2 linked regions of the Homo sapiens genome follow. The protein of the gene in region 1 interacts with the protein of each later gene in a pairwise test. Each region holds a gene or a part of one and is shown on either strand. Other genes may lie near its edges. The genes, in order: DIS3L and RNF20.

Region 1 (4,150 bases):
ACTTAATAACTGGGTAACCTTGGCCACTTAACTTCCCTAACCCTGTTTTATAGTCTATAAGATAGGAATGATAATGCCCCACTCCTTTGACTTGTTGTGGAAATTAAATGGGACACGTATACAAAGCTGCTAGTGCAGCTCAAAAGTCTTAGTTGAGTGCTTGGAAGAAGAGTGGATTCTATCCCATCAAGGGTGTGTGATCTCAGAAGAGACTGTGTGCATCTCTTTATCAAGAGCTACAGGCTGGGCGTGGTGGCTTACGCCTGTAATCCCAGCACTTTGGGAGGCTGAGGTGGGAGAATCACTTGAGCCCAGGAGTTTGAGACCAGCCTGGGTAACATAGTGAGACACTCCCATCTCTACAAAAAAAAAGAAAAGAAAAGAAAAGAAAAAAACGCTAGGCGTGGTGGAGAAGATCGTTTGTGCCCAGAAGTTCGGGGGCTGCAGTGAGCCATGATCATGCACTATACTCCAGCATGAGTGACACAGCAAGACCCTGTCCAAAAAAAAAAAAAAAATTAATACAAACATGTACGTTTGTGATTGTGTCACAGTGGCAGTTTAAAGGAGAAATCCTTTGCCAGAGGCTGCAAAAGCTATAAAAGTTGGAGTGGAACAGTGCTTCAAGGGAAGAGATTGGTTTTCATTTTATCTGCATTGTTTGATTATATAAGTACATGATAACTTCAATAGGGATACCAAAACAAATAAATAAATTTTAAAAAGAACATGAAAGGCCAGGCGCAGCAGCTCACACCTATAATCCCAACACTTTGGGAGGCCGAAGCAGGTGGATCGCCTGAGACCAGCCGGGCCAACAGAGCAAGACCTGCCCCCCTCACCCTCCCATCTCTACAAAAAAAGAAAAAAACTTTAAAAAAAGTACATGTAATTTTAAATGAATATAACTTTTTAGAAATGTTCGGCTGGCAGGGTTGCCGGCTTATGTGCTGAGTCTTTTACCTCGTTTGGAGATAGCGAGAGCAACGAAGAGAAAACATTAATTACCCGGTATTAGTATTAATACGGCGGCTCCATTCCCACATGGACCTGGGGGGGACAAACAAAGTCTCCTAATCTTGGACAGCTGCGCCCAGCCCTTCTTCACCTGCCGTCCAGGTATCATCCTAGTCTTCCCTCCGTCTCTGGGGTAGGTCGTTTCCACCCCTCCGCCCTGGTCCAGGCCACTGAGGGAAGGGAAGAAACTAAGGCCGGGAGGGCCGGGCCCCAGCCTGGAGCGTGTAGCTCCGGGCCTCCCCCGGGCGCGGCAGTTACGGCGGTTCCGGAGCCGCGGCGCCTAGGGCCGAGGGGCGGGTCCGAGGCCGCGGCCTTGCCTCCGCCGCGCCCGCCACTCCGCGGCCGCCGGGAGACACGCCGCCATGCTGCAGAAGCGGGAGAAGGTGCTGCTGCTGAGGACCTTCCAGGGCCGCACGCTGCGGATCGTGCGCGAGCACTACCTGCGGCCCTGCGTGCCCTGCCACAGCCCGCTCTGCCCGCAGCCCGCCGCCTGCAGCCACGGTCAGGGCCGGGGCGGGGGCGGGGACGGGGCCGGCGGGAGCGGGCGGCCGCAGTGAGGGGCTGAGCGCGGCCGGGAGGCGGAGCGCCAGCGGCGGGGACACGGAGGCGTAGGCCCCGCGGCCTGCGCCCGCTCGCCGGCCTCACCCCCCGGCTCTCTGCCGGTGGGGACCCAGCGGCCCGGGTCCGCGGCTTCTGGGGCGCCCGGGACTCCCTTACTGCTCCGCCCTGTCCAATGGGAGGGCCCGACAGACCCGCACCCCATGCCGGAGGCCGGGTGGTTTGGCTCCTCAGAGGGGCCTGAGGGCGCGGAAGCCGAGGCCTCCTCCCGCCGCAACCTCGCGCCGTGGAGAAATGGGGAGGTCCCGAGCTGGGAGCCCCCGGGAGCTACAGGCCAGCTGCTGCCGCTGCGAAGCTGACATCGCCTGCTTTGCAGCCACAGGTTTCCTGACCTGCCCGCACTGTTGCCCCAGACTTTTCCCCCAGTGGAGAGCCACTTCACCGTAGATTTGTGAACTCTCTGGGCCCGCACTGGAGCGGAAGGTCACGGGGAAGTTGGACTGGGGACTCCTGGGCCCCAGTCCTTGGTTTCTAGGCCACAAGGGTGGCCGATAGAACGATGCACGTTACTGGCTCTCTTCCCCCATGGGAGGATGAGAATGGGCTGGGGGTCCTTGTCAGCGAATGTGTGGAATCCTCCAAACATTGTGATTAAGGTGAACATTTCAGTTAGAGCTTGGCTAACCAGCTCTCAGATGCAGGTCTGGTGGGAAACCTCACCTCTGCACGTTGCTTGCACGGAGCATTTTCTCTGTTCAATCTTTCTGGCCCTTGGAGGCTGCTGAGCACGTGCAGAAGCTTGACACAGAGCCAACTTTAAATTGCTGGGCATCATACACAAGTGGTATAAATGTGGGGGTGCTTCATTTGAATGTGTTTGTCAATGATGAGTTAACACTGAAATATTCAGGTTATGCTGAAAATGTGCTTGTTCGTTGTTAAATCAGCCATCCTCTCCGGCACCTCTGGCAACACCATAAACCACGTTGAGCTTGTATTTATCACAGCTTCCAAAAAAATGAGGGTGCTCAATATACCTGAACTTTGGGCCTCTACCAAAGTAGATTTGTCTTTTAAAAACTCCCACCATGGAGTTAAGACTGGAAGTTATTTTGCATGCCAGAGCACCGTGACATTTAAATAAACCAGGTTTGAAAACATTGTCTAATCTCTTACATTTTGAATTATGTTTCAGATGGGAAACTCTTGTCTAGTGATGTGACTCATTACGTGATCCCAGACTGGAAAGTTGTTCAAGATTATCTTGAGATCCTTGAGTTTCCTGAGTTGAAGGGAATTATTTTCATGCAGACAGCTTGTCAAGCTGTGCAGCATCAAAGAGGCAGGAGGTATACGTTTTGCATTCTTTATTTCTATATGGCATAGGTTCCCCCCACCTTAGAAAAGGTCCCTTGTCGGAGGGGGATGGGAGGAATTCATTATTTTGTCAGAAGGGACTTTTAAAACTAATTTCGTATTCTCTTTGATAGTGAGGAATGCAGTAACATTATTTTATATTTCTGCTTCAACACCTGGCCAAGAGATCTGACTGTAGATTAGTAAACTGCAGTGTCCCCAGTATGTGGGTATTTAAGATTCTAGTGTGAATTGTCTTTTGGCTTGCATTTTTATAGTGGCAGGGTTATTGCTTATTTCTTGTTGATAATGTGTATTATTTAATCTTATTTATAGATACATTGTTTCAGAAGCATACGTTCTTTTCTTGGGGAAAAGAGTACTTTATTTTTAAATTTTAGACTCTTTTATTGGGGATGCAAATTGTACTTGTAATGATTTATTCAATGAAACCAGAAATAGCTTGTTTTATTTTTAGATTACTAGTGTAACTACCAGCCATAGTCATTGTATTTGCTAAACAAAGGCTTTCTAATTGAACAAGTCTAAAATTCTTGCCTAGTACTTAAATGAAGAATAGCTGTCTACCTTTTAAACAAATACTTTGAAAAACGATTTTGCTTCCTTTAATGTTGGGAAAGGTTTATGACTTGAACTTAAAACTGTATGGAAATAGCATATTAGAATTATACGTCCAACCTTTTAACACTCTAAGTTATTTAATAAGCACCAACTATGCATTTATTCTTTTTTAAAATGTTGTGGTTTCTTCAGGCCTTAGTGATAAAAGATGAAGTGTTTTTATTTGTATATGAAAATGGCAAAAAATTGTCCTCTTATTATATGCTCAGTTCAAAAAACATACATTAACCAGATTGTGTGCAGGTTTTTTCAGATAGAATATTTTTAAATGATCTTCAAGTTGATTTTGTTCAGACACCAAGATATAGATGTTTATACACATCCAAATTTAAATGCTGCTCCAGGTGTCATATTTCAGTTTCTGCTACTAAAATCAATTTGTTGTTATCATTCAGATTGCTAACACACTGCGAGCCTTTTCAACTTCTGTTTTCTGAAATATTTTTAATGTTAAGGATTGTTTTAGAAACCAGTTCCTGGGACATTCAAAGACAAAGAGTTGGAATTTAAACGTTTTTTTCTCCTGAACATTTCAAGAGTAGTTAACTTGATGAAAAACTATTGGTTTTCCACTGCC
Region 2 (4,028 bases), on another chromosome or scaffold:
ATATATACCACCCATCAAAGAGAGTTATCAGGAAGAAAAATATGCTTTCTCATATCACCTCTTGGCATTACTCTTAGTATCAATACAGAACAGGTTGGTCATATGGTGGTTTTCATGGTTTTCAAGCTAGGCTTGCCCATCAGAATCACTTGTGGAACTTTTAAAATAGACATTTCCCTAGGACCTATCTCATACCTACTTAATAAGAACCTCCATGGGCAAAGCCAAAAATAAGAATATGCTCAGAAAACTCCCAAGGTTATTCTGATTCATAACCTGAGTTAAGAAGTAGAGACTGAATTTTAGTCCTCTCAATATCCTAAGCACTGAGGACAGGGCTAGAATACAATAAAATTCAATAAATGTTTAGTGAATTTATAAACAAGCCCATAAATGCAATTCTTTTGAATCAAAGACCAAACAAACAGACAGTACTGCCCTGGCAGGTTAGACAGTGCCGCCCTGGCAGGGTTAGACAGTGCCGCTCTGGCAGGTTAGACAGTGCCGCCCTGGCAGGTTAGACAGTTCCGCTCTGGCAGGGTTGGACAGTACTGCAGTGGCAGGGTTAGACAGTGCCACCCTGGCAGGGTTAGACAGTGCTGCCTTGGCAGGTTAGACAGTGCCGCCCTGGCAGAGTTAGACAGTGCCGCTCTGGCAGGTTAGACAGTGCCGCTCTGGCAGGTTAGACAGTGCCGCCCTGGCAGGGTTAGACAGTGCCGCCCTGGAAGGGTTAGACAGTGCCGCCCTGGAAGGGTTAGACAGTGCCGCCCTGGCACGGTTAGACAGTACTGCCGTGGCAGGTTAGACAGTGCCGCTCTGGCAGGGTTAGATGAATTTATAGACCTTACTCTATAAGGCCTATACTTGCTCTAGAAGGCCTTACCTTACTCTAGAAGGCCTATCATATCATAGGGGATTTTGTAAAACACAACACAACTCCAAACCTCCAAATAATGAATTACCCTAAATATAAAAGACTGTATAGTGTTATTGAGGAATGGCGTGGTAGAAATTCCACAGGGAATGGGGAAGTAGAAACTACTGTATTGATGATGTCCTAGGAATTTGAGGAATGTCAATTTTCAGTCTAAGTCAGGGGGATGAACTTTCAAACAAGTTACAACTGATGCTATAATTCATACTTTATACATCTTTATCTCTTAGAAAGTTCAGCTTACCAATGGCAATTGCCTTTTGTGTTACAAATAATGGCATGGCTATTTGTAATGTTTCTACTTTTTAACTTAAACCCGACCTTAAAATGCATGCCATTAAATAGTAATTTTAAAGTCGTTTGATATACTACTCATTTTATTCCCTTTTTAAATAAAACAATTGTTTCACTTGATATTCATTTATGAAATCAAGTTTAACATAGTCTATGCACATGGCATATTAATTACCATATTACTAAAATTTAACAATACCTTCTAACTATTCAATTAGAGCCCAAGGAGAAAGAAGCATATGTGCACACACAAAGCACCATTATTTTATATTAGGTGACAGGGAGGTTCACATCCATTCATTCCCCATTGACTAAACATCTGCTAGATGCCAGATGCAGTGCTAGAAACTAGAGAAACAAAGAAGAGTGAGCCAAACTACTGAACCAAGACACAGTTTAGCTGGGGACATGCAAGTAGATGTAAGATATTAATACAAAAGTACAAAAGTCTGAGAGGACATAAAACACATTGTTTAGAATGGTTATCTTTTGAGAAATGAGAATGGGGAAACTTTTGTAGTCTACTTATTTGTATTTCTGACTTGTATATTTTTAAACAAGTATCTGTTTTCCTTATAATAAAATACAGAAATGCATAATCTAATGGAAAAGCAAAAGAAACCCGTGACCAAATTTTCACAGGCCTTCTACAAGCTGCTTAATTCTGTTGACAACTTAGCCCAATTACCCTTAAAAGCAAAATTACAGAATAATACAATTCTTATATGCTCATCCAATGGTTCAACCTCCATTACATTCAACTTATTTCCTTCAGAAATGAAAGGTTAAACATCTTAATGATAAGCAGGGAAATTAAGATATTACAACTAGACCATGATTATTATTGAAAACATGAAATCAAGGCATTTTTTTTGCATTTGAGCAAGGTATTTATGCCACAAATGACTAAAGATGTAACCTAGCTACACAAATACTTTACTGTACAAATTTAAATTTTTGCATTAACTCTGAGTAACACAATTATCCCAAATAATTATTTTATTTCAAATACTCTTTCATCCATAGAATATTTTCTAATAATCCTTTTAACCATACAGATCATCTGTCAACTCTAAAACCTGCACCAACTCTTTTTAAAAACATTAGCGATAATGAAAAATAAGTTAAGTAAAAATTAACTTTTTCAAGTCAAAATTCTGTAACTAATAATTAAATAATATAGTTGTTATTTAAAATAAAGTATTATCACTATAAATCAATAGCCTACATACACGATAAACAGATCCAGATATTAGAGCTGTTTATTAAATAATAAAGTTAATTCTGCTATTTACAAAACTGTCATTAATAGAGTATATCAGTATAGAGCTGATAAACTCTTTCCTCAGCTTATTAAAGGACTGTCATGTGGCTCAAAATGAGAAGCACTGATAAAAGATTAATATGCCATAATGAAGACATTACCAGTAACACTGAAGGTTAGAATTTCTAAAAATTTAATTAAAATATATAGTCCAGGCACAGTGGCTCATGCCTGTAATCCTAACACTTTGGGAGGCCAGAAGAGAGGATCTCTTGAGGCCAAGTTTGAGACCAGCCTGGGCAACATAGCAAGACTTCCTCTCTACAAAAAGGTTAAAATATTAGCCAGGTGTGGTAGTACGTGCCTATAGTCCTAGCTATTCGGAAGCTGAGGCAGAAAGATTGCTTGAGTTCGAGGATTCAATGGGCTATGATGGTGCCACTGTGTTCCAGCCTGGGTGACACAGTGAAACCTTATCTCTTAAAAAGTAAATAATAAATAAATAAAAATAAATATGTAAGCTTGCAAACTACAAATTAGCATGCAAAAATGAATTCTTATTCCTCCTCCACTACTCCCGGCCTCCAGGGTCTTGCCTCACCTCCACTGTTTAGCTTCCGGGATAAGAGCTCCACTTTTTCTTGCAATTTATCATAAACAGTCACAATCTGGGACACGGCTCGGCGGGAAGACTCCACACGTTCCTGCAGCTGAGACTCCATCTCTTCACTGGAACTGCTGGCCAAAGTAGCAAGGAAAGAGAAAGCTGGCTCTTGCCCTTCCCCTGAGGACACAGGGGGAAAAAAAGAAGCCCCCCAAAATTATAAACTGGAAATAACAAAATCCATTTTTTTTCCCTCAAATGGAAAGCCTCAAAGCAGAGCTCTACTTTAAAAACCCAGATAGCATGCAGTGATAGAATCCATCACGAACACTTGCCTCTCTCTCGGTCATCTTTACGCTCCTGATTGCTATCAGAGTCTGGTTCTGGTTCAGGCACAACAAGGGCTTTTCGTTCTGTGAGTAGGTCTCCCAAGCCCTGCTCCAGATCATAACGTTTAAGGATGATACGGATGTTTTCATCAAACTGGAGAAGGGTAGGTACAATTATGAAGAAACAAAGGACACAACTTTGGAAATGAAGAGAACAGTAAGGAGAACTAAATTGGTCAAATAAAAATCTGAACAAATAAACAAGTTAGCTACCTGACTCCAGTATCGGTTGACAATCAATAGTGAGGCATCATCAGTGGCCTGTCGTCGTTCCAGTTTTTCAATGTGCTCACGAAGTTCATCTTCAATGGCCTGCCGCTGATCCAACATTTCTGCCAGCTTGCGATTTTTGGTTTGCAGTGTTCTAATGTCTAGTTCCTCCTGCCCAGTAAACCAATCGTATTAGTCTCCACAAAGAAATAAGAAAAATGAGCCGTTAAACTCAACAAGGTCACAATTATTCATTAGTTATTTTCTATGAATAAAGCTATTGACTTTTAAAAAATCTTACAAGTAATTAAGAAGTAGAAGCAGAAGAGATAA

Evidence for each region.
Region 2: the proteins of DIS3L (region 1) and RNF20 interact in a two-hybrid assay, tested with the Homo sapiens proteins (one large-scale study listed by BioGRID).

Annotation. Positions count from the first base shown.
Region 1 is NC_000015.10:66,292,218-66,296,367, forward strand, and holds the start of DIS3L (DIS3-like exonuclease 1), read left to right. Parts: upstream 1-1,350; 5' UTR 1,351-1,379; coding exon 1,380-1,518; intron 1,519-1,597; exon of another isoform or gene 1,598-1,869; coding exon of another isoform or gene 1,870-1,957; exon of another isoform or gene 1,958-2,231; intron 2,232-2,770; coding exon 2,771-2,924; intron 2,925-4,150. UniProt on the Homo sapiens protein: Catalytic component of the RNA exosome complex which has 3'->5' exoribonuclease activity and participates in a multitude of cellular RNA processing and degradation events.
Region 2 is NC_000009.12:101,540,041-101,544,068, reverse strand, and holds part of RNF20 (E3 ubiquitin-protein ligase BRE1A), read right to left. Parts: intron 3,867-4,028; coding exon 3,699-3,866; intron 3,580-3,698; coding exon 3,432-3,579; intron 3,277-3,431; coding exon 3,094-3,276; intron 1-3,093. UniProt on the Homo sapiens protein: Component of the RNF20/40 E3 ubiquitin-protein ligase complex that mediates monoubiquitination of 'Lys-120' of histone H2B (H2BK120ub1).